Regions from separate parts of the Homo sapiens genome. Here all the other regions are linked to region 3. The links come from fine-mapping of genetic effects on gene expression. A gene starts in region 3. Each other region holds a variant in brackets. All regions are shown on one strand. Distances are from middle to middle.

Region 1 (5,101 bases), 83 kb before region 3:
ATATCCTAATTCCTTTTAGAGTCCTCCTGGGATATTGCTCTCTCTCCTCCGCTCCTTCTCCTCTAAATCCCTATAGCACAGAATTAGGGATTACTTAATATTTTATTAAGTCATATGCAATCTTATTTTATAGTTGACTAATTCAACTATGTATAGTTCAATATAATTGGCTAACTTAATTGCCATGTCAGTAAGACGATCAACATCTAGAATATAACAATTGTTTTATTCATATGTATACATACACATACATTATATAAAGTTTTTGCCCTCGCCTAACGTACTCCTGTGACTGTGGGAGGCACTCGATATTGGTTAGATGAGTGAATGAATAGACAGTGTCAATGAAATGAAACCCTTGATAATTCTTTATTTATTTTCTTTTTCTTTTTTTTTTTTTTGGAGACAGAGTCTCGCTCTGTCACCCAGGCTGGAGTGCAATGGCGCAATCTTGGCTCACTGCAACCTCCGCCTCCAGGGCTCAACCAATTCCCCTGCCTCCGCCTCCTGAGTAGCTGGGATAACAGGAGCCTGCCACCACACCTGACTAATTTTTGTATTTTCAGTAGAAACGGGTTTCATGATATTGGCAAGGCTGGTCTCGAACTCCTGACCTCATGTGATCCGACCTCCTCAGCCTCCCAAAGTGCTGAGATTATAGGCGTGAGTCACCGCGCCTGACCAGGAAATTCTTTTATCCTGTTGATGGGGCTTGGACACACTTCCTGGCCTCAAAGTCTCCTGCTTCAGAGGATTCCTTGACTCCCAAGAACCTAGAAAAGCATTTGTGCAGCCGGGCACGGTAGCTCACGCCTGTAATCCCAGCACTTTGGGAAGCCGAGGTGGGTGGATCACCTGAGGTCAGGAGTTCGAGACCAGCCTGGCCAACATGGTGAAACCCCATCTCTACTAAAAATATAAAAACTAGCCAGGCGTGGTTGTGGGTGCCTGTAATCCCAGCTACTCAGGAGGCTGAGGCAGGAGAATTGCTTGAACCCAGGAGATGGAGGTTGCAGTGAGCCCACACGGTGCCACTGCACTCCAGCCTCATCGACAGAGTGAGACTCCATCTCACAAAAAAAAAAAAAAGAAAAGCATTCGCGCACTATAAAAAGTGAAATACTCCCTTATGTCACAAGGAATTCAAAAGGAGTTTTAAAAACCCAAGTTTTAAAGTTCTGTATAATAAAAAAAATTTTGTACAAAATTACAGGGTTTTTCATTTCTGTATATTCAAATGGACATGACAGTGTGACAAGGAGTGGTTTTTCCTCTCAGGGTTTTGACAAATGGATCCCTTGTTCTTTTTTTTTTTTTTTTGAGACGGAGTCCCACTCTGTCGCCCAGGCTGGAGTGCAGTGGTGCAATCTCGGCTCACTGCAAACTCCGCCTCCTGCATTCCAGCAATTCTCCTGCCTCAGCCTCGCGAGTAGCTGGGATTACAGGCATGCGCCAACACCCCCGGCTAATTTTTGTATTTTTAGTAGAGAGGGGGTTTCGCCATGTTGGCCAGGCTGGTCTCGAACCCCTGACCTCAGGTGATCCACCCGCCTTGACCTACCAAGGTGCTAGGATTACAGGCATGAGCCATCACGCCCGGCCATCCCTTGCCCTTTACAAGGAATTGTCATCTTCTTCCCAGGATTTGTTTTTTTTTAAATAACATATATCACCACACCAGGCATGGTGGCTCACGTCTATAATCCCAGCACTTTGGAAGAGCAAATGGGTGGATCACTTGAGGTCGGGAGTTTGAGACCAGACTGGCCAATATGGCGAAACACTGTCTCTACTAAAAATACAAAAAATTAGCCGGGTGTCGGGCGCGGTGGCTCATGCCTGTAATCCCAGCACTTTGGGAGGCCGAGTTGGATGGATCACAAGGTCAGGAGTTTGAGACCAGCCTGGCCAATATGGTGAAACCCCTTCTCTACTAAAAATACAAAAAAATTAGCCAGGTGTGGTGGCAGGCATCTGTAGTCCCAGCTACTCTGGAGGCTGAGGAAGGAGAATCCCTGGAACCCGGGAGGCAGAGGTTGCAGTGAGCCGAGATTGCACAGTTGGGCTCCACCCTGGGTGACAGAGCAAGACTCTGTCTAAAAAAAAAAAAAAAAAAAAAAAAAAAAAAATTATATATCTATATAAAACTTTCTGTATGAGAGTAATACATAATACAGTCTCACATTTGCTACCCTCTCTTTTTTTGAGATGGAGTCTCGCTCTGTCTCCCAGGCTGGAGTGCAATGGCATGACATTGGCTCACCACAACCTCCGCCTCCCACGTTCAAACAATTCTCCTGCCTCAGCCTCCAGAGTAGCTGGGATTGTGGGTGCCTGCCACCACGCCCAGCTAATTTTTTTGTATTTTTAGTAGAGATGGGGTTTTACCATGTTGGCCAGGCTGGTCTGGAACTCCTGACCTCAGGTGATCCACCCACCTCAGCCTCCTAAAGTGCTGAGATTACAGGCATGAGCCACCACGCCCAGCCCACATTTGCTACCCTCTTGAGTAAAGAAAACTAACATTCTCCATCAAAACAACTTTTTTTATTGACTAGATCTAGTCAGATATCCAAAAAGAAAGATTCAGGAAACAAGGCTAGGAAAATAAAATAATTCATGATCTTAAATCCATCTTACTCACCAAAACATAGCAACTTTCCAGTATTCTTCATGTTCAACTGTTCATCAGTAGGAGGGCTAGTTGTCCTTCTTGTTTTATCTAAGCATCCCTGTTCGCTGATTAATAGCATTCTCCCTTGTTCCATCCATGTGATCAAATCTGGCTTGGAAAAAGCATACCCTGCAAATAGAGTCCACACAGACTTTGAGTTTACTGCATACTTAAATAATTTTTTTGGCCGGGTGTGGTGGCTCAC[G/A]CCTGTAATCCCAGCACTTTGGGAGGCCAAGGCAGGCAGATCTCTTGAGGTCAGGAGTTAGAGACCAGCCTGGCCAACACAGCAAACTCCGTCTCTACTAAAATTACAAAAATTAGCTGGGCGTGGTAGCACACGCTTGTAATACCAGCTACTCGGGAGGCTGAAGTGCGAGAATCACTTGAACCTGGGAGATGGAGGTTATAGTGAGTAGAGATCGCGCCTCTGCACCCCAGCCTAGGCAACAGACCGAGACTCCGTTTCAAAAAAAATTATTTTTAAAAATTATTATCATTATTATTTTATTTTATTTTTGAGACAGGGTCTCACTCTGTCACCCATGCTGGAGTGCAGTGGTACAATCTTGGCTCATTGCAACCTCTGCCTCCCGGGGATCAACTGATCCTCCCACCTCAGCCTCCTGAGTAGCTGGGACTATAGGCATGCGCCACCATGCCCTGCTAATTTTGTATTTTTATAGAGATAGCGTTTTGCCACGTTGCCCAGGCTGGTCTCAAACTGCTGGGCATAAGCAGTCTGCCTGCGTCGGCCTCCCAAAGTGCTGGGATTATAGGGGTGAGCCACCGCGCCCAGCCCCGTGACCCTTTTTTTTTTTTTTTTTTTTTTAGACAGAGTATCGCTCTGTCTCCCAGGCTGGAATGCAGTGGTGCGATCTCGGCTCACTGCAACCTCCACCTCCCAGGTTCAACCAATTCTCCTGCCTCAGCCTCCCGAGTAGCTGGGATTACAGGTACGTGCCACCATGCCTGGCTAATTTTCATATTTTTAGTAGACAGGGTTTCACCATGTTGGCCAGGATAGTCTCGAACTCCTGACCTCAAGAGATCCACCCACCTCAGCTTCCCAAAGTGCTAGGATTACAGGCATGAGCCACCGTGCCCGGCCTCTCTCTCTTTTTTACCATTACCCACAATAAAAATCATTTTCATAGTTGACTTCGATTCCTAGAGACGTTGAGATCAAAGTTAAGTCAAAAAAATGAAAGCCGTTGAAATGACATGAATGACAATAGAATAAAGCCTTACCAAGACTTTAGTTCAGGCCAGGTGCAGTGGCTCATGCCTGTATACCCAGAACTTTGGGAGACTGAGGTGGGAGGACTGCTTGAGCCCAGGAGTTTGAGACCAGCCTGGGCAACATAGGGAGACCCCATTCCTACAAATTTTTTTTTTTTTTTTTTGAGACGGAGTCTCACTCTGTCGCCCAGGCTGGAGTGCAGTGGCATGATCTCAGCTTACTGGCAGCTCCACCTCCCAGGTTCATGCCATTCTCCTGCCTCAGCCTCCCGAGTAGCTGGGACTACAGGCGCCTGCCACCACGCCCGGCTAATGTTTTGTATTTTTAGTAGAGATGGGGTTTCACCGTGTTAGCCAGGATGGTCTCAATCTCCTGACCTCGTGATCCACCCACCTTGGCCTCCCAAAGTGCTGGGATTACAGGCGTGAGCCACCGCACCTGGCCCAAAAATTTTAAAAATTAGCCAGGTGCGGTGGTGTATGCCTGTGGTCCCAGCTACTCAGCAGGCAGAGTTGGGAGGATCACTTGAGCCCATGAGTTTGAGGCTGCAGTGAGCTGTGATTGTGCCACTGCACCCAGCCTAGGTGATAGAGAGAGACTCTGTCTAAAAAAAAAAAAAAAAAAAAGACTGTTCAGTTTAAATATCCTCTGCAATATTTCACAAAATTTTTTGAGACAGTCTTGCTCTGTTGCCCATACTGGAGTGCAGTGGTGTGATCTTGGCTCACTGCAACCTCTGCCTCCCGGGTTCAAGCGATTCTCCTGCCTCAGCCTCCTGAGTAGGTGGGACTACAGGGGTGCAACACCACGCCCAGCTAATTTTTTTTTTTTTTTTTTTGGTATTTTTAGTAGAGACGGGGTTTCACCAAGTTGGTCAGGCTGGTCTGGAACACCTGACCTCATGATCCACCTGCCTCAGCCTCCCAAAGTGCTGGAATTACAGGCGTGAGCCACTGCGCCCAGCCTTTTTTTTTTTTTTTTTTTCTTTGAAATGGAGTCTCACTCTGTCACCAGGCTGGAGTGCAGGGCACAGTCTGGCTGGAGTGCAGTGGCACAGAGTGGCTCACTGCAACCTCCGCCTTCCGAGTTCAAGCAATTCTCCTGCCTCAGCCTCCTGAGTTGCTGGGATTGCAGGTGTGCGCCACCATGCCCGGCTAATTTTTTGTATTTTTAGTAGCGATGGGGTT
Region 2 (5,101 bases), 350 kb after region 3:
TTCAAATCCAGGTGCCCCCTGGAAAGAGTCTCTTTTTAGTACCACATACCAATTGGTACCTTTAGGTTGCCCCAGGTCCTATGGCAGGTTGAGGGGAGGTTCCTGGGAAGGAAGTGGAGGGAGAAGAGATGGAAAGGAATCTAGTCATCCTTTGGGCTGCGGCAATGGAAAGTCCCAAAACTAGGAATGTGGTTCTAGCTATGATCTTGTTATTAAGGTGATGTGTGAACTCATGCAGGCCTTTAGTCTTTGTTTTTTCTTTCAGGCATATAACATGCAAGTATAGACTAAAATCAAAGTTGCCAAACATGTCTGAGAACCAGAATGACCTGGGAGGGTGGTCAAGTATACAGATGCCTTGGGTCCCACCTTGAGATTCTGATTTGTTAGGTGTGAGGTTTGATTTTTCTTTCTTTTAATCTTCCCACATCACAGAAACACCAGATGATCTCCTGGGCCGCAAAATTCAGCAAACACTTAGGAAGCAGATTCACCACGTACCAGTTATTAATCTGCAGTTTGTACCACTTGCTCGAGTCCAGTGATGCAGAACACTCACACAGCAAGTTAAGCAAAGCAACTTTATTCCTTACAGGCAGGCAAGGGACAACAGAAGCCTGGGATGTAGGGTGAACTGGTCCCCCAAGGCTCAGGAACCTGCCCAGGGCAGATGGAGTCTCACCTGTGTGTCCCACTTCACACTGCAGCTGAGGGACCCTGAACGCCCTCTGCTGTCAAGTTTTATACCCCAAGGGCAACTTGGATCATTGGGCTAAAGCGTTGCAGGACATCCTGTTCTAGGTGTGATGGGAACAGAGTCCAGGTTTAGGACAGTTCCTCCTTATCTCAGGACAACACTCCCAGTACATTCTCTAGTTATTCTGAGAACTACAACCAAGAAAAGAGGGAAGCACCGGGTTGGCCAAGGCCATCCGGAGACTTGTCCTGCTGGGTCATTTAAAAAGCTTTTCTAGGATAACGTTGGCTTTCCAAGTGGTTTTCCAAGCTGATGTCTTTCCCACTGAGGAGAAGCTGTAGGCCTGTGGACTGCCAGGTAGGAGGAGGTTGAGGTTTAGAGGAAAGAGGAGAGCAGGAATGGGTTGTTTGCAGTGGGGCTGTTCCCATGGACTCACCAAGAAGAAATCGAGGTGCTGATGGGGCTGCACAAGTGCTTATCAGAAACAGCTGTAACAAGTGAGGGGTGCAACTGAAGGTACAGCATTTGCCTGCAGGCCAAGCGGTCTCTGGTTCAAATCCATGTGCCTCCCACCCCCCTTCAGTTTTCTACTTATTGAACAAAAGCCTTTTCACCTCGGGTCTATTATACTGGAATCTTCCTGCAAGGAGAGAAGAGAGGATAGACAGCATAGAGCTTTGCCAGGAAGCCTCTCTAGTTTCTTGTAGGCCCCAGTGAACTTCTCCAGGCGACTCTGTCCCCTCATTAACCCTTATCCTCAGAGCCTTGAAATGGGCCCAATTGTCCCATAGAACTGATGTTTATGGTTTTTCTTGAATAAACCTAGAAATTGACCCTCTCAGTCTTGAAACCCAAGGAGAAATTTACATTTATGTCATCTGAATTCCTTTCTCAGGAAACCAGCCAGCAATCCTCCCAGACGGTATCAAGAAACTGAAATTTACCAGATCCCCACATCTGGAAAGTGAGAAGCCAGACCCCTCACCCATCATGATTCCCCAGGTGACCACCTGCTGCCTGTTGGCCAACTCCTCTTCCTTGCCCCTCGTTAATCCCTGTTTTCCCACATGTAGTTACATTTCTTCCCTGCTATATAAACCCCTAATTTTAGTCAGTTGATGATGATGGATTTGAGACTGATCTCTTGTTCACCCTGTCTGTAGCACCTGGATAAAGCCTTCTTCCCTGACAATACTTGTCTCAGTGACTGGCTTTCTGTGAGATGAGCAGCAAGACCTAGATGGAACCCCTGGTGTTTCCGCAACAGCCTTGCAACTTTCACTTTCCCTGTGGGAACGCTCATCTCGGCCATCCCCTGGAAGGGCGGGTAGGGAATTGACTCCTCTGGAATCCTCACCCCCAGGGACTGTGTAGCATAGGGCCTTGCCTGGAGCAGGTCCCATGGCTGCAGCTGCTCCACCCTGAGCTGCTCTGGCAGGGTCTATACAGAGTGAAGGAACTAAAGGAAGAGCGGTGAGGAGGGCTCCTAAGTGGCACAATGACTGCCAGGAAGTGGCTGTTATAGGCAGGGGTTTGCAAGCTACTTTTAGTCAGGAGGCCCCACACTATGCCCTGGGGCTACTTCCCTGCCCCTTCTGTGTTTATGAAGCCCCAGTATCTGCTTCATAAACACCAGATGTGCATGTGGGGGGCATCTGTCTCCCACCTGAGCAGAGGCTCCCAGTGCCCACTGGGGTGAGTGAGCTGCAACGTCTTCTCAGGGAGGTGAACAAGGTGAAATGCTGTAACACTGACTGTTGGAATCTGGGAGAAAGACTGAAAGAGGCAGTGGTTTCCCCTGTGTCTGAATGAGTGCTCAATTATTCCTTGTGGCAGCATCCCGCGGATGATCAGTTGTTGCTTGCGGGCTTTGTTATTTCAAGTCAATAAAACCACATCCTTACCAATAGGGAGACATCTATTCAATTCCCTTCTGCAAGCGGTATCAGACTTCCACGTGTGGGTTCGCTGCCTCGTTTTATACTAGTTGAAATTCTTATTTGGGACTCGGGGGACCTCTCTTGCCCAGCATGCCCTGCTGGGCTCACTCCATTCGGTCTCTCCATGGAGTTAAAAGCAACAACAGCTAAAAGCAAAGATCCGAAACAAACAAAAAATAATAATTACTTTTTAAACAAAGAAAAAAAAAGCAAAGATGTGAACCCAATTCTGCTTAATCCCTAGCAGATTTTTTCTCCCTGAACAAGAGTATAACAGTCCATAATAACATAATTGTAGCTGCAATCTGCTTACTCCCATAAAATATTAGCCTAAGAGACAAACACTGCCACTTTCTAAGG[T/A]GCAAGTCAATTTCTTTTCAAGTTTTGAAGAGTGTAGAAGTTGGAGCCTCATGTAGGAAGCCTGGCCTTGCTCTTGCAGTGCTACAGGCAGGAGCCGTGCAGGCAGAAGGAGCCTCAGCAGAGGCCAGCATCAAGTGCGGGTCCTGGAGTGCCTGAGGACGGGGAGCGTGGGGAGTGGAGCAGGGAAGGTGGTGCAGGGAGTAGCAGGGGAACAGGATGCTAAAGATGGAAGGGCTTTATAGTCACCACACAGAATTTGGTTCCATGCAATGCAGCTCAGAGCTACCCTCCGTCCTTTTTCAGCTCTCCAGACTTCTTTTTCCCCTATGACTTCTACCCACCAACTTGCAGTCAGAAATGCGGATATAACTTTTGACTCCCCTGAAATGTAACTACTAATAGCCTACTGTTGACTGGAAGCCTTTCTGATAACATAAACAGTCAATGAACACATATTTTATATGTTCTATGTGTTATATACTGTATTCTTAAAATAAAGCTAGAGAAAAGAAAATATTAAGAAAATCATAAGGGAAAATTTATTTCCTATGGAATAAGTAGAAGTGAAGTGAATCATCATAGAAGTCCTAATCTTTGTCATCTTCACAGAGTAGGCTGAAGAAGAAAAGAGGGGTTGGTCTTACTGTCTTGGGGGCAGCAAAGATAGAAGACAATCTGTCTGTTAAGTGGACCCACAGTTCAAACCTGTGTTGTTCAAAGTCAACTGTAGTTTTACTTATAGACTTTACAGATTCAGGACCAGGCTTCCTGGGTCAAAGTAATGGGAAGTGCAGAACCACCTTTGCTGACTAATGCAAGCCCAGATGAAGGGCGCTTGAACTGGAAGCAAGGCCTCCTAGTCTGCACTCAGCTACTGCACCCTGGCACTGGCACCTGGGCTGGCTGAGCAGTATCTCTGACTCTGGAAGCTGAGTCCCACGCTCTTGTTGCCTGCGGCTCTTTCTTCACACCCAGAGTGGCTCTGGTTTACTAGCAGGCCTGCTCCCCTACTAAGAGGACACCTTGCTTCCCTTTCAGTCCCCTCTTCTGGCCATTTCAGCCAGCCCTCCTCAGCCTGAAGTCTTCAGCTCCTTGGAGGGCAGGTGGATAGAGAAGCTAGAACCACTTCCTCAGATCTCACTTGGGCTTTTCTGGTAGCTAGGGAGCTACTGTAATTTAAAAATCAGCTCACCCTCTGGGCGTGTCTCTCTGCAGAAGGTACGTGCTCTAAGAGGCGGTTTGTGCATGTGTTGCTGAAGGGGACTTAGGAAGTGCTTACCTTTATTCGAGATGATGGGGAATCTTCCAGACCAGGTATGACCACTGGGAAAAGTGACTGTCTGGAAAGCTGGGGTTGCCTAGAAACATATATGAAGGGGAAAGGTACTGTGACTTGGTGTTTGTTCCTCCCAGCAGGACCTGAATAATCCCTGGGGAGGGGGCTCTGCTGTTGGGCAGGCAGAGGACAGGACGCTCTGGCCCAGTGCAGCAAACACTCCAGGGGCTGCAGGCCACCTCCACCCTAACATCAGCCTTGCTGCAGAGCCCCCTGCCTGTGCTGATGTGGGAAGGGGTCCTGATTAGGGAGTGTGAATAGTCCTGTAATTGGGAAGATCTAGAGTTGTGAAATAATGTTCATTTTTTGAAATTGTGGCTTTGGGTGAAATTCAAACATTGCAGAAAGGTGAGACCTAAACATGGTACTTATGCTGAGACTCTGCTTGGGGGGCCCACCTGAGCAGCCAGCCAGCCCCCACCCTGATGATATTGCCACTGGATTACAAGGCATGGAGTGTCTCAGGCTTATCACAGGTAGGGGTGAGAATAAAACAGGAGTCATGGGCTTTGCATGGAGATACAGAAATAATCAGACAACTGAGGTCTCTGAAGCCTCAAAAGGACTGTGACTTTTGACATCACTAACGAAGTTTTAGGACTCAGGCCTAGACCACCCCTTCTCTAGCAGGAGTTCATTGATAGCTGACCTGATCAATGGCTTTACTGTTCTTCTACAAACACCTGTACCATATCACTCGTAGTTTCCGATCACTAATCACTCAACATACTCATATCTTTTATGGCCATTCTTTGTGCGTCTTTTCAG
Region 3 (5,101 bases):
ACCATGCCTGGCTAAGTTTTGTATTTTTAGTAGAGATGGGGTTTCACCATATTGGCCAGGCTGGTCTCAAACTCTTGACCTCATGATTTGCCCGCCTCGGCTTCCCAAAGTACTGGGATCATCTTAACAATGAATGGGACCTCTAGCTCTGAGCAACTACTCTGGTCACAAAGGGTGATAGTGTTGATGGCTGCATGAAAATCCACCCGCTGTGAAGGAGAAATGTGAAGTAGACACACTACAGCGATGTCTTACTATGTAACAAAGGACATCGTTATAACTAGTTAAGTGCTTAGGAAGGGAAGTCATTTTAAAGGCTTTATACAGAAAAGATAGCATAAATGTTTGGGACTAACCTAGTCCTTCCTTTATCACCTCTAGGAAAGAGAAAAGATAGTTGATAATCTACAGTGCAGAAGACGTGTTCTGAAATGTGGCTCGCTGGTGGAAATGAATTTGCCTAGAGCTTTTCAGACTTAACTTGCCTGGTTCCTCTAATAAAAGTGGACGTGATGTTTACAATCAGGGCCAGGAAGCAGGGAAGGAAATCACTGACTTCTGGGAGCATGGACTTTACTGGCCTATAAGCTCCTTGAGGATAATCTTAAGTCTGTGAATACTCATTTCTGTATCCTAGAAGTGTGCCTAGCAGAGAAAGTACTTGGTAACTGTTCTTCTGAATATGGCCTTCTAAGCACATGTCTCACGTAGGCCAATAATGTCCTTTATTTTATGAAGTGCAGTGGAACTTAAAGGTACTAGCAGGTCTGCTTCCACACAAGGTGATGAGCCTCAGAGATCTCTTCCTTAACAAGACAGGGACTGGTCCTTTAGGAAAACAAAGTAAATACTATTTTGAGAATAATTACAAAAACACCTTTTGGGGGTAACTATCTTTGCAGAATGCTCGCTATGTGCCAGGCACAATTCTCATTTAATTTTACAACATTAAAATAGAGTTGCCATTATTTTCTTCATTTATATATGAAGAGAATGAGGCTCAGAGAAGTTAAATAAGTTGCTCAAAGTCATAGCTAGTGAGTGGTGATTTTGGGATTTAAACTCAGGTGTATGCAACTGCAAAGCTCACCCTCTTCCTAAACAGTACCTGGCACACAGTAGGTGTTCAATAAATACATTTGGAATGACTGAATTTTCCCCTCCTCCATCTTCATCAGCTTATACTGGCCTCTCCCTGGCTCCTCCTCTGACCTGGCCTGATGTTTCAAAGTGACACTGACCTGCCTTTAAAGGGTTTTATTTGTAGAGAAGGGATCTCGCTGTGTCACCCAGGCTGGTCTTGAACTCCTGGCCTCAGCCTTGGCCTCCAAAGTGTTGGGATTACAGGTGTGAGCCACCATGACTGCCCGATTTAAAGGTTTATTTATTTATTTATTTGACACAGGATCTTTGCTATGCCGCCCAAGCTGGAGCACAACGGCACAATCACAGCTCACTGCAACCTCCAACTCCTGAGTTCAAGCAATCCTACAGCCTTAGCCTCCTGAGTAACTAGGAGTACAGGCATTAGCCATCATGCCCGGGTAATTTTTATTTTTTATTTTATTATTATTATTATTATTTTTTTTTGAGACGGAGTCTTGCTCTGTTGCCCAGGCTAGAGTGCAGTGGCGCGATCTCGGCTCACTGCAAGCTCCGCCTCCCGGGTTCACGCCATTCTCCTGCCTCAGCCTCCCGAGTAGCTGGGACTACAGGCGCCGCCACCACACCCGGCTAATTTTTTTGTATTTTTAGTAGAGACGGGGTTTCACCGTGTTAGCCAGGATGGTCTCGATCTCCTGACCTCGTGATCCGCCCGTCTTGGCCTCCCAAAGTGCTGGGATTACAGGCGTGAGCCACGGCGCCCGGCCTTATTATTATTTTTTGAGATGGAGTCTCGCTCTGTTGCCCAGGCTGGAGCGCACTGGCGCGATCTTGGCTCACTGCAACCTCCGCTTCGGAGGTTGAAGCGATTCTCCTGCCTCAGCCTCCCGAGTAGCTAGGATTATAGGCCCACGCCACCACGCCCGGCTAATCTTTTTGTATTTTTAGTAGAGACGGGGTTTCACCATGTTGGCCAGGCTGGTCTCGAACTCCTGACCTCAGGTGATCCGCCTGCCTCAGCCTCCCAATGTGCTGGGATTACAGATGTGAGCCACCGCGCTCGGCTAATTTTTATTTTTTATAGGGATGGGGTGTCAATATGTTGCTCAGTCTGGTCTCGAACTCCTGGGCTCAAGTCGTTCTCCTGCTTCAGCCTCTCAGAGTGCTGAGATTACAGGTGTGAGGCACCACGCCCAACCCAATTTCAAGGTGTTTGAAGAGGCCACTGTTAAAATGCACTGCACCTTACCTGGGAGAAAGAGCTCAGCCCTCTTTTGACACCTTAACATGAATCACTTCTCTATCATCCATAACAGTGCAAAAGCTCTGGGATGGGTCCAGGTAAATCTGGATTGGGAAGAAGGGGAGTGGGAGGTAAAGTCTGCAAAGGAGTGAGGGAAGGCAGAAGGCCAGAAGAAAGTGTCTGAAGACAGAATTACTCCTGCAAAATTTTCACAAGGGTCAGGCACTATTTTCTCCCGGGATGCCCAATACATTTGCAGAATTAACAGTAATCAAGCCCACAGTCCAGGTCCTCGCATAGTTTGGGCCTTTAAAGTCGGCCATCCCAGATTGAGGGGGCCTGACCCCTGGGCGAGGCCGCCGCCTCTCAGTTTTGGGGCGGTGGCGACCCCAGTCCGGGAGTGGCCCCGGTAGGTCCCCGCAGGCGGGCAGGAGCTCCGAGGCCATTGGCTGGCGCGCGGGCTGCCAAGGGGCGGGGAGCGCCGCCGAAGGGGACTGTTTGCTCCTACGGGCTGTAGATGGAGCTGTCCGGCCCCGGAGAGGGGGAAGGCGCCTGGAAAACGTTCTTCTTCTCCCTGGCCGACCCGAGCGGGGAACAGCACTCCCAGGATGCAGTTTGTGTCAACACGGCCGCAGCCTCAGCAGCTGGGCATCCAGGGCCTGGGGCTGGACAGCGGGAGCTGGAGCTGGGCCCAGGCTCTGCCCCCGGAGGAGGTCTGCCACCAGGAGCCGGCGCTGCGCGGGGAAATGGCCGAGGGAATGCCGCCCATGCAGGTGGGAGAACCCCGCCGGCGCCATGGCCGCGCTGCCGTGGGGGCGGGGCGCGGGCTGGGCCGCGGGACCGGGCCGCGCCGTCCTCCGGTAGCCTTGCGGCGCCCTCCCAGCTTCCGCGCCCAGGCGAGGCCCGAGGCGGGCGGGGCACGGCCGGGCTGCGCGGCGGGCAGGACGGAGCGGGCCCGACGCAGGCCCGGAAGGGCAGGCCTGGCCCGCGCGGCGCGGAGCAGCGGTCGCCGGGCCCAAGTGCGGAGGCCCCGCGGGGCGGGGGCCGGGACCGTCCTTTCCGGGACCTGGCAGAGCTCTGACCCTGTGGCTGAGCCCCGGCTTGGGGCTCCCTTTGCGCCCGGCCGGCGGAGAGCTTCGCGGGCAGTGCTTCCGCCCGGCCGCAGAAGTGAATGCCTCGTTCGTGTTTACACGGTGGCCAATTTGACGGGGATATTTTTTAAATGTTTGATTACCACCTTTCACCAAGTGTAATGAGTAATTCACTCTCCCCCTGCACCGGGTGTGATCCAGGGAGGGGGCCATGGAGAGATGACTTCGGGGTCTTTCCTGCGGTTGACAAACTTGGCCGCATGTTGGAATGGCCTGGGCAGCTTTTAAGACTCCTGAGCCCTTGCCTGGTCCCAGAGCTCAGGGTCTCTGACGGGTGAGAGTAGCACCAGGCATTTCTTCAGGCTCCATCGATGATCTCCGTGGGCAGAACCGGTGCTCCAGAATTGGGTATAAAACCAGGGGAGGTGGATCCTCAGAGAGGCCTGAAAGCTTGCCCAGGGAAGACTCTCTGGGCCCACCCTGGGGCTGGGCTGCTCAGGGGCCCCTCTGCTCACCACGCGGCTCTCAGCCAGGTGCTAACGAGGGAGCCAGGGGCTGCTGTGTTGTGTTTGATCATTTTCAGGGTTAGGGCTTCAAACCCGAGAAAACTAAACTGGGCCCCGGGACTTTCTTAACTTCTACTGTGGACTCTGTCCCCTTCTGTGGGCTAGGGCGGAGTGGAGCCTCTGTGATGGAGGAATGGGTGCTTTTGATGGAAACACCAGCACCTCTTACTGGTATTACAGGGCCTGGCGATCCTAGGGCCCTGCTCTCCACTCTGCTGTGTCCCGGAGCAGGTCTGCCCCGGAGCAGGGCTGCTCTTGAGTCAGAGAGTGGGGCTGGTCTGCCCAGATCGCCCCAAGCAGCAGGCCTCCCCTTTTCCTAGCCTGAGGGCCTTTTCTGCAGCCATCGGGAGGACAGAAAATGACACCTCTTCCTGTCCCAGGTGTGAAGGAGAGTCGGCTGCCAGCCCATGTGGTCCAGTGAGCCCTGAGTCTGACACCAGGTCCCAGATGACCAGTGAACTGTCACCAGCCTCAACCAGCCCCCCTTAGCCATAGGTCTCAGCTCTCAATTGCACCAATTAGTTTACCCTTCTGGGGTGAGGGCTCTGTGCTGGAAGATAAAAGGGGGAGTCCCCAGGCCATGGGGCACCCCTTCCCCAGGAAGCAAGGAGGGGTCCCAGAGGAGTTTTTCTTTCTCTTGGTCCTCTTGGGTGTGAGGGACATCCCCTCTTCACCTCTAATGAGTGACCTTTTTTAGTGAACCTATTTTCAATTTGGAAAATGTTTATGAAACAGTAGTTGTATATGGGGGGAAGCTGCTTTTCTGCCCTAGCTTGGGCTCTCCGGTCTTTTCCTTGACTGCAGCCCTGGTAGGAATGTGGTGGGTTTTTTTGTTGTTTATTTGTTTGTTCCGAGACGGAGTCTTGCTCTGTTGCCCAGGCTGGAGTGCAGTGGCACCATCTCGGCTCACTGCAACCTCCGCTTCCCAGGTTCAAGCGATTCTCCTGCCTCAGCCTCCCAAGTAGCTGGGATTACAGGAGCCCACCACCACACCCGGCTAATTTTTGTGTTTTTAGTAGAGACAGGGTTTCGCCATGTTGGCCAGGCTGGTCTTGAACTCCTGACCTCAAGTGAGCTGCCTGCCTTGGCCTCCCAAA
Region 4 (5,088 bases), 34 kb after region 3:
CGGACGGATCCCGAGGTCAGGAATTTGAGACCAGTCTGACGAAAATGGTGAAATCCCGTCTCTACCAAAAATACAAAAATCAGCCGGGCGTGGTGGCGGGTGTCTGTAATCCCAGCTACTCAGGAGGCTGAGACAGGAGAATCGCTTGAACCCAGGAGGTGGAGATTGCAGTGAGCGGAGATCGCACCACTGCACTCCAGCCAGGGCGACAGAGCGAGACCCCGACTCAAAAACAAAAAAACACCTGAGCACAAGGCTCAGTGTGATCCCTTTATTTTACCTTCAAGGGGCTGATTCCCAAGGAGACCTAGGGACTGAGCTAGTGAGAGCCAAGCCTCTCTGCTTTCCTGTATCCTAGGCTGGTGGATACCACTGCACCAAGTACCCCTCAGCTACACCATGAGTCGCCCCAAGCCCTGGCACAGGTTGCTGGAGCATCCCATAGTGAGCCTCATCCCCAGAGCTGATCGGGGATGGTGACACTCAGGATGTTAGCCTCTGCTGGCTCCCAGGCAGCGAAGATCCTCAGTGAAGACCCTGGAGTCCACATCCTGAAGCAGAACAGGGGTTTTGCTTTGGGGGTGGATTTTTATTTTCCTTCTGAGAAAATGTAGTTTATGTAGAGACAAAGTCTTGCTCTGCCATTCAGGCTGAGTGCAGTGGTGCAATCTTGGCTTACTGCAGCCTTGACCTCTGGAGCTGAAGCAATCCGGTTGGGCGTGGTGGCTCATTCATGTAACCCCAGCACTTTGGGAGGCTGAGGTGGGAGGATTGCTTGAGACCAGGAGTTTCAGACTGCCCTTCCAACATAGTGAGACCCCTGTCTCTAGAGTAAAGAAAAAAATTTTAAAAACAGAGACAGGCCAGGCATGGTGGCTCACACCTGTAATCCCAGCGCTTTGGGAGGCCAAGGTGGATGGATTGCCTGAGTTCAGGAGTTTGAGACCAGCCTGGGCAACATGGTGAAACCCCATCTGTACTGAAATACAAAAAATTACCCGGCCGTGATAGTGGGTGCCTGTAATCCCAGCTACTTGGGAGGCTGAGGCAGGAGAATCGCTTGAACCCGGGAGGCAAAGGTTGCAGTGAGCCGAAATGGCACCACTGCACTCCAGCCTGGGCGACAGAGCGGGACTCCTCAAAAAAAGAGAGAGATAGGATTTCACTCTGTTGTCCAGGCTGAAGTGCAATGATTCAATCATTGCTCATTGCAGCCACGAACTCCTGGGCTCAAGCAGTCTCTTGCCTCAGCCTCCCCAGTGGCTGGGACTATAGGCATGCATGCATCACCACACCTGGCTATTTTGTTTTTCTTTACTTTTTGTAGAGATAGGGTCTTGCTATGTTGCCCAGGCTGGGCTTGAACTCCTGAGCTCAAGCAACCCTCCCACCTCAGCCTCCCAAAGTGCTGAGATTACAGATGTGAACTGCTGCACCTGGCCTTTTATTTATTTATTTATTTATTTATTTATTTATTTATTTATTAATTAGATGGAATCTCACTCTGTTGCCCAGGCTGGAGTGCAGTGGTGCCATTTCAGCTCACTGCAAACTCCGCCTCCTGGGTTCAAGTGATTCTCCTGCCTCAGCCTCCGGAGTAGCTGGGATTACAGGCCCCCACCACCATGCCCAGCTAATTTTTGTATTTTTAGTAGAGATGGCGTTTCACTATGTTGGCCAGGCTGGTCTTTAACTCCCGACCTCAAGTGATCCGCCCACCTCGGCCTCTCAAAGTGCTGGGATTACAGGTGTGAACCACCTCGCCCAACCCAGCCTATTTTTTTAATTGACTTTTAATTTAAAAATCAATGCAGTCCAGACATGGTGGCTCACGCCTGTAATCTCAGCAATTTGGGAGGCCTAGGCGGGCGGATCATGAGGTCAGGAGTTTGAGACCAGCGTGGCCAACATGGTGAAACTCTGTCTCTACTAAAAACACAAAAATTAGCCAGGTGTGATGGCACACACCTGTAATC[C/T]CAGCTACTCAGGAGGTTGAGGCAGGAGAATCGCTTGAACCCGGGAGATGGAGCTTGCAGTGAGCCAAGATTGTGCCACTGCATTCCAGCCTGGGTGACAGAGTGAGACTCCGTCTCCAAAAAAAAAAACAAAACCAAACAAACAAACAAAAAAAAACACACACAATGCATGCAATAAAAATTCGAACAGTTTAAAAAAAAAAAGAAAAAGAAAAGAGGACACAATAAAGAGTGAAACTCTTTCCTAACACACTTCCTGGAAGTATCCACTGCTGAAAGCTGCATCTGTGTCCTTACAGACCTGTGTTCAATTTCCCAGACATTCAAATTACTTCCTCATTTCAGGATATGCTGTTCTGGGCTTTCTGTCCTCATCAGCCTAGGAAGCTCTAACAGGGACATCTGGATTGTAGCATTCCTTCCTCAGCACTGTACCAGATGATCAGGTACAAGGAGTGCTCTGCAAAGGTTGCTGCTCCAAAAAGCTCAAGAGAGTAGAACGTTTCCTGAGATGGGTGGACAGCTCAGGGAACTTCATGCTCATGGCCTCAGTTTGTGCCTTACTTTATGGAAAGGGCAAGGCAGGGTGTTAGGAGAATGAGATTGAGGATGGACGGATGGCTGCATTGTTATTGTTTCATGAACATCTATTAGGGAACAAAGAAGAGTAAGACCTAGTCCTTGCCCTCTGGGAGCCTGACGTCTAAAGGAGAGAAGGTATTTGTGAGAACAACACTACTAGAAAGCATATGACTGCATGAGGGTGGGGGCTTGAGAAATATACGCCTGATCTTCTGGAAGGCTCGCTGCAGGACATCCCGCTGAGAAGTTGGGAAAATACTGGTCTGTAGAAGCCATACTGAGCTAGTGATGGTCAAGGCTAAGTCTCCGGTTTCCTGGATCCTGGGTTGGGGGATCCCGCTGCACTAGTGCCCCTCAACTACACCGTGAGTCACCCCAGCCCCCAGCACAGGCCCTAGGAGAGTCCCGTAGGGAGCTCTAACCACAGAGCTGATCAAAGATGGTGACACTCAGGATGCTGGCCTCTGCATTTTGTTCACTTGAATACCTCTTTAGTATTTAGCACGTGTCTAGCCTGGATGGGCACCACAGGGGGTACAAGTGATCGGAGTTGAGCAACAGACATGAAGAGGAAATTGGCACCCTAAGGTGGTACAATTTGCTTGACAGCAGAGTTGATGGGAGGAGTCAGAGCTCATGATACGATAAGCGTGAGATTAACCTTCATGGAGAAGTCAGGGACTAGAGGATGAATTGGATGGGGCAGAGGGAAAGGAGGGAGGACGCAATGTGGGACAAGGGTGAAACACACTGGGGAGAATGCAATTGGGATTGAAAGGCAGAAGACTGGCAGAGCCAGAGGCCGTGGACCAGCTGCTGGTGGTCTGGGCCCCACAGAGCTGCAGCCCTTTTGGAACTCTTCAGAAACAGTGAATGCATAGCGCTGAAAGGAGGCCAGAGGATGAAATGGAAGTCTCAAGAAGGCAGGTTTAAGTCAGACACCACCAAAAATGAAAAACACCCCAAAACACACAGGTAAAGGCAGTTATCTTATGATCAAAGATTTGGGCACCATGACCAGCTCTCTGACATCTGGGCCCTGGGTATTGGGTATTGGCAGGGAGTAAAGGGGGAAAGTAGGAAACTTCATACCAGGCTCAGGATGAGCCAGCCTGTGCCTATAATTTCACAGCATTTGTCCATCCAGCTGTTACTGCAAAAACATGCGATAGAGCATCCTAGAGGCCCAGAACCCTGTTTTGGAAGAGCACAGGAGGACGGTTTGGGGGAGGCCATGCCTCCTAGGGAGTCATTAGGGAGGCATATCTTTTTCTTTCTTTCTTTCTCTTTGAGGCAGGCTCTTTCTCTGTCGCCCAGGGTGGAGTGCAGTGGCACGATCTTGGGTCACTGCAACCTCTGCCCCCAGGTTCAAGCGATTCTCCTGACTCAGCCTCCTGAGTAGCCGGGATTACAGATGTGCACCACCATGCTCGGCTACTTTTTGTATTTTTAGTAGAGATGGAGTTTCACCATGTTGGCCAGGCTGGTCTCGAACTCCTGGCCTCATGTGGTCTACTCACCTCAGCCTCCCACAGTGCTGAGATTACAGGTATGAGCCACTGTGCCCGGCTAGGGAGGCATATCTCTAAACTGGTAATTCTTGAGATGAGAGGTCCTGAATATCTGTCAGAATCATACACAGCCCCCAGCCCCCACTGACAAGGGTCCCAGATGTCTCCTTCCATAAGAGTCACTCTGCTAGTGAGATGCTGGCACTGTATCCCAAAGGTTGGGAACCTCTGTTCAAACTTCTTTAGACATATTTTAATTTAATTTAATGTGTTATTTTTTTTAGATAGGGTCTCGCTCTGTCGCTCACTCTGGAGGGCAACGGTGGGATCATGACCCACTGCAGCCTTGAGCTCCTGGGCTCAAGCGATCCTCCTGCCTTGGCCTCTCAAAGTGCTGGGATTACAGGCATGAGCCACTGTGCCTGGCCTAGACATATTTTAAATCCACGTCACCCCTCAGCATGATAATTTCTATAGGTTTACCAGAAGACTCTCTTTGTTATAAAAGACTACCTTTGGGCCGGGTATGGTGGCTCATGCCTGTAATCCCAGCACTTTGGGAGGCCAAGGCAGGCGGATCACCTGAGGTCAGGAGTTCAAGACCAGCCTAATCGACATGGAGAAACCCTGTCTCTACTAAAAATACAAAATTAGCCGGGTGTGGTGGTGCATGCCTGTAGTCCCAGCTGCTCGGGAGGCTGAGGCAGGAGAATTGCTTGAAGCTGGGAGGTGGAGGTTGTGGTGAGCCAAGATCGTGCCATTGCACTCCAGCCTGGGCAACAAGAGTGAAACTCCGTCTCAAAAAAAAAAAAAAAAAAAAAAAGACTACCTTTGATGTCTCCCATTCAAGATTCAAGTTCTGTATCTAGTATTAGAGGTGTAAGCCAGTGTTGACTATCTGGGTGTCCCCATACCTTTCATTCTGATGGTGTCAATATCCTTTAACTGAAAAATAGCTTCAGACCCATCCTACATATAGTGTCAAAGCCAGTGCCCCTGCCCCACACTTCAAGGATTTG
Region 5 (5,096 bases), 27 kb after region 3:
GGGTGTGGTGGCTCACACCTGTAATCTCAGCACTTTGGGAGGCCGAGGCAGGTGGATCATTTGAGGTCGGGAGTTCGAGACCAGCCTGGCCAACATGGAGAGACCCTGTCTCTACTAAAAATACAAAAATTAGCCAGGCATGGTGGCAGGCATCTGTAATCCCAGCTACTTGGGAGGCTGAGGCAAGAGAATCGCTTGAACCTGGGAGGTGGAGGTTGCAGTGAGCAGAGATTGTGTCACTGCACTCCAGCCTGGGCAACAGAGCAAGACTTGGTCTCAAAAACGAAAAAGTTTTTCAGTGGAATGGCAAGGGTGCATGCCTGATTGGAATCATCTAAAAAGAATGGGAGGTGAAGAAGTGGTAAGGGCAAGTGCAGTGACTCTTGATGAGTCTTACTATGAAAAGGAACAGAAATGACATGTGAGGAGCTGGGGCACGGGCCACATGGGCCTAGGGAGGGGGTTCTTTTAAGGTCGGAGATAACTAGACCATTGTCTCGGGTCAGATGCTCCCAACTACTTTAGAACCCTGATTCAAACTGCCTTAAAGAATAAAGAAGCCGGGCACGGTGGCTCACGCCTGTAATCCCAGCACTTTGAGAGGCCGAGACGGGCGGATCCTGAGGTCAGGAGATCGAGACCATCCTGGCTAACACGGTGAAACCCCGTCTCTACTAAAAATACAAAAAAATTAGCCTGGCGTAGTCGTGGTGGGCGCCTGTAGTCCCAGCTACTCGGGAGGCTGAGGCAGGAGAATGGCGTGAACCCAGGAGGCGGAGCTTGCAGCGAGCTGAGATCGCGCCACTGCACTCCAGCCTGCGCAACTGAGCCAGACTCCGTCTCCAAAAGAAAAAAAAAGAATAAAGAAATTTCTTCTCTTACGTAACTGGAAGTCCTAAGGTAGGTCAGGTTCAGGCTTAGTTGATTCAAAGACTCAGCATGTTTTCAAGGACCCAGGTTCTTTCCAATTCCTTGCCTGACCATCCTCGGTGTGGCTTCATCCCCAGGCTGGTAGCACAGCAGCTGCAGCTGTCCCAAGCGTCGCATCCAGACATGAGTGTACAGGAAAGCCCATCTTTTCCTGCACACTCTAAGGAATGAGGAAATCTTTCCAGAAGCCTCCCAGCAAACTTCCCATACCCTACTGACCATAACTAGGTTACATGCTTGCATGTGAATCACTTACCAGCCAGTGACTGGAAAGGAAAAGCCCTCAGGGCCATGCATGGGTTGGGGGGGAGGGGCGTAGGATAGAGGAGGAAGGATGACGTAATCATTCCAGAGTGGAAAAGTAAAACCCACTAGAGACGTGGGCCAGGATGCCAGGCTGTGTGGAGGCCCCTGGAGGGTTTTTTTTTTTTTTTTTTTTGAGATAAGGTTTCACTCTGTCACCCAGGCTGGAGTACAGTGGCGCGATCACGGCTCACCGCAGCCTCGACCTCTCAGGTTTAAATAATCCTCTCGCATCAGTCTTCTGAGTAGCTGGGACCACAGGCGTGTGTCACAGTACCTAATTTTTAAATGTTTTTTTGTAGAGATGGGGTCTCCCTAGGTTGCCTAGGCTGGTCTCAAACTCCTGGGCTCAAGCAATCCTTCTGCCTTGGCCTCCCAATGTGCCGGGATTACAGGCATGAGCCACAGTGCCTGGCCAGCTTGTGCAGTTTTTCAGCTGCCTGAGTGCAGTCACAGGACTGGAGTTCTCCAGGCAAGCACAACGGCGGAGCAAAGGCAATCACCGTGCCCTTGCAAGTGCCTGGGCTGCCGGGCCTGGAGAGCCAAGTTGGGTCAGGAAGGCAGAAAAAGGTTGGAGGTGGAGGGCATAGCGGGATGGTGAGAACGTGGATTGAGGTTCACACTGGGTTGGAAGACGGTCAGAGTAGGACTGCCTTAGGTGGGCTTCCCGGGAGACAGCCCCTGGGAGTTTATGTGCATATAGTTTCTTTGCAAGTCCTCTGGGAATAACACCTGGGAAGGAGTGAGAGTAGCAGGACTGGGTAGACAGAGAAGCAAACACCCTCAGTGCCGTGGCCACAGAGGCCACAGCGATCTCCCGGGATTCTCTGGAGCTGGGATGACCCTTCCCAGGCATCCTGCACTGATGTGAAGAGAATTCTTTTGGCCTCTGCACCTGGCCAGTGTCCTGCAGAGATGGTTCTCTGCCAGGCCAATTTTGATTGAGACAGAGAGGGAGGGCAGGCCCAGTCTATTTAAGAGTATCATATAAGGACAGACCTCAGTCAAACACCAACGAATATAGGAGGGCTGGGTGGAAACATGGCAGATGTGGCCTGGGAAGTGGCCTCCGGGGAGCAGTTGGGTCCTAGGCAGAGGGGTGTGAGCACGGAGAAAAGGATGCTGAGAAGAGGTGGGAGGCCGTCTCTTTCTTCAGAGCTCTTCCACAGGCTTCCCCTAAATTGGGGAGCAGGACTCCTCTAGGGAGAAAGGAATTCAAACTGAAGACCAGGGAGGTGATGGAGCGTGAGGCATGAGAACCACTGGGCTGGGGGACAGGGTGGGTGGGAGGGGGAAGGACTGGGCCTGACGTCACCATTCTGATGCTCAGAGCCTGGGCTTTGTCTCCCACTGCCCCCCAAGGTGGTGGAGAACTGTGCACTTGGAGGAAAGGGGGCAAGAACCGCATTTCCTGGGGTGGTAGGTTGGGTGGCCACTGCCACGAGTGCAAGGAGGGCCTGTTATGGTGCTGCCAAGGTCCAGGTGGGTCAGGTGCCAGGGTGGGACTCACATGTCCCAGCTGCCCACACCTGCCCAAGTCAGATGCCCCACATGCTTAGTGGAAACATGACTGCCAACCCATCTGATGCTTATGTTTCCAGCTCCCTGCATTCCATTCCTGTGGGCCTCTAGATGGTTTTCACCTTGGATAAAATTCTTTTCTTCCTATTGAGAGACTGTCCTGAGATAAAAGTGAGCATTGTCAGTGTGTGTGCTGGCTCACATCTGTAATCCCAGCACTTTGGGAGGCCAAGGTGGGAGGATTGCTTGATCCCAGGAGTTGGAGACCAGCCTGGGCAACATAGTGAGACCCTGTCTCAACAAAAATTTATTTTTTATTTTTTATTTTTATTTATTTATTTTTTGAGTCAGAGTCTCGCTCTGTCGCCAGGCTGGAGTGCAGTGGCA[G/A]GATCTCAGCTCACTGCAACCTCCGCCTCCCAGGTTCAAGTGATTCTCCTGCCTCAGCCTCCCAAGTAGCTGGGACTACAGGTGCGTGCCACCATGCCCAGCTAATTTTCGTATTTTTAGTAGAGATGGGGTTTCACTATGTTGGGCAGGATGGTCTCGATCTCTTGACCTCGTGATCCACCCACCTCGGCCTCCCATAGTGCTGGGATTACAGGCGTGAGCCACTGCGCCTGGCCTTTTTAAATTGTATTTTATTTATTTACTTTTTTGAGAGACAGAGTTTCGCTCTTGTTGCCCAGGCTGGATGCCTGGGCCAGTGCAATGGCAAGATCTCAGCTCACTGCAACCTCTGCCTCCCCGGTTCAAGTGATTCTCCTGCCTCAGCCTCCTGAGTAGCTGGGATTACATGCATGGGCCACCACTCCCGGCTAATTTTGTATTTTTAGTAGAGACGGGGTTTTTCCATGTTGGTCAGGCTGGTCTCCAACTCCTGAACTAAGGTGATCCGCCCACCTCGGTCTCCCAAAATGCTGGGATTACAGGCGTGAGCCACTGCGACCGGCCGAAAAGATTTGTTTTTTTTTTTTAATTAGCTGGGCCTGGTGGCGCATGCTTATGGTCCCAGCTACTTGGCAGGCTGAGGTGGGAGGATCACTTGAGCCCAGGAAGTCAAGGCTGCAGTGAGCCATGATCTCACCAGTGCACTACAGCCTGGGAGACAGAGCCAGACCCTGTCTGGAAAAACAAACAAACAAAAAACATTGTCCATCAGACTGCAAGTAAGTCTTGTTGTTTCTGGGAAATTCTGCCTTCCAAAATGACTTCTGGACAGCAGGTCCCCTACCCCTTAGCCCTCAGCGTTCTGGAGGGACTTCCTGTCCTTGCTGCGTGCCACCTGCTTGACCCGTTTCTGGGCTCCACAGCAGGGTGGCTTCGAACAGGTCGAAGGGCCACGTAGATCGTGGCCCAGCACCTTGTGCAATCCCTCGTAGTTAGTGGAACTGAGGCTCAGATAGCATGCTCCCTGGGCCCCCCTTCGGGAGCAGTGTGGGGTCCTGGCCGAGAACCCCTGTCAGCATGTCACTTCTTCCTATCTCCCCAGGTGACAGCCTGCTGATGGTGAAGAACCCACCCCCGGCCCCGCCACAGCCCCAGCCCCAGCCCCAGCCACCGCAGCCGCAGCTGCAGTCGCAGCCCCAGCCCCAGAGCCTGCCCCCCATCGCGGTGGCCGAGAACCCGGGCGGCCCCCCGAGCCGAGGGCTGCTGGACGACGGTTTCCAGGTGCTGCCCGGGGAGCGTGGCTCCGGCGAGGCGCCGCCGGGTGGGGACCGCAGCACCGGGGGCGGCGGGGGCGATGGGGGCGGTGGGGGCGGCGGCGCGGAGGCGGGGACGGGGGCAGGCGGCGGCTGTGGCAGCTGCTGCCCTGGCGGGCTGCGGCGGAGCCTCCTCCTGCACGGCGCCCGCAGCAAGCCCTACTCGTGCCCCGAGTGCGGCAAGAGCTTCGGCGTGCGCAAGAGCCTCATCATCCACCACCGCAGCCACACCAAGGAGCGGCCCTACGAGTGCGCTGAGTGCGAGAAGAGCTTCAACTGCCACTCGGGCCTCATCCGCCACCAGATGACGCACCGCGGCGAGCGGCCCTACAAGTGCTCGGAGTGCGAGAAGACCTACAGCCGTAAGGAGCACCTGCAGAACCACCAGCGGCTGCACACGGGCGAGCGGCCTTTCCAATGTGCACTGTGCGGCAAGAGCTTCATCCGCAAGCAGAACCTGCTCAAGCACCAGCGCATCCACACGGGCGAGCGCCCCTACACGTGCGGCGAGTGCGGCAAGAGCTTCCGCTACAAGGAGTCGCTCAAGGACCACCTGCGCGTGCACAGCGGCGGCCCGGGCCCCGGCGCCCCACGGCAGCTCCCGCCGCCTCCTGAGCGAGACTAGGGCTGGGCTGGGGGAGG

Direction of the effects. Alleles are on the strand shown, and positions count from the first base shown. SD is a standard deviation of normalised expression in the study named. Not every link is listed here.
In carriers of allele T in region 4, the expression in testis of the gene that starts at base 2,912 in region 3 tends to be lower than with C alone (small effect, 0.23 SD a copy in GTEx).

What was found. PIP is the estimated chance that this variant, and not a neighbour inherited with it, causes the effect. A credible set is the group of variants that fine-mapping cannot tell apart.
Region 1: its variant is the best candidate, but not a certain one, in a credible set for the expression of ZNF282 in whole blood (TOPMed, PIP 0.53).
Region 2: its variant is the best candidate, but not a certain one, in a credible set for the expression of ZNF282 in whole blood (INTERVAL, PIP 0.58).
Region 4: its variant is the best candidate, but not a certain one, in a credible set for the expression of ZNF282 in testis (GTEx, PIP 0.62).
Region 5: its variant is the best candidate, but not a certain one, in a credible set for the expression of ZNF282 in whole blood (TOPMed, PIP 0.59).

The regions. Positions count from the first base shown.
Region 1 is chr7:149,109,493-149,114,593 of GRCh38, forward strand. It overlaps ZNF425 (zinc finger protein 425), which reads right to left. Exons shown (of 4, transcript NM_001001661.3): 3 at 2,645-2,803. Among named protein-coding and RNA genes, the nearest start is that of ZNF425, 14 kb to the right of the region's middle. The variant G/A (reference allele first, on the strand shown) is at 2,880.
Region 2 is chr7:149,546,592-149,551,692 of GRCh38, forward strand. TRC-GCA16-1 (tRNA-Cys (anticodon GCA) 16-1) reads left to right here; the gene lies at 1-20. It also overlaps the pseudogene ZNF767P. Among named protein-coding and RNA genes, the nearest start is that of TRC-GCA16-1, 2.6 kb to the left of the region's middle. The variant T/A (reference allele first, on the strand shown) is at 2,998.
Region 3 is chr7:149,192,635-149,197,735 of GRCh38, forward strand. It overlaps ZNF282 (zinc finger protein 282), which reads left to right and starts at 2,912. Exons shown (of 8, transcript NM_003575.4): 1 at 2,912-3,120. The coding sequence starts at 2,956. RefSeq lists silencers at 2,580-2,869, 2,688-3,009, 3,130-3,489 and an enhancer at 3,930-3,979.
Region 4 is chr7:149,226,578-149,231,665 of GRCh38, forward strand. No RefSeq gene overlaps it. Among named protein-coding and RNA genes, the nearest start is that of ZNF212, 11 kb to the right of the region's middle. RefSeq lists a silencer at 30-237. The variant C/T (reference allele first, on the strand shown) is at 1,977.
Region 5 is chr7:149,219,569-149,224,664 of GRCh38, forward strand. ZNF282 (zinc finger protein 282) reads left to right here. Exons shown (of 8, transcript NM_003575.4): 8 at 4,244-5,096. The coding sequence ends at 5,079. Among named protein-coding and RNA genes, the nearest start is that of ZNF212, 18 kb to the right of the region's middle. RefSeq lists an enhancer at 270-1,259. The variant G/A (reference allele first, on the strand shown) is at 3,142.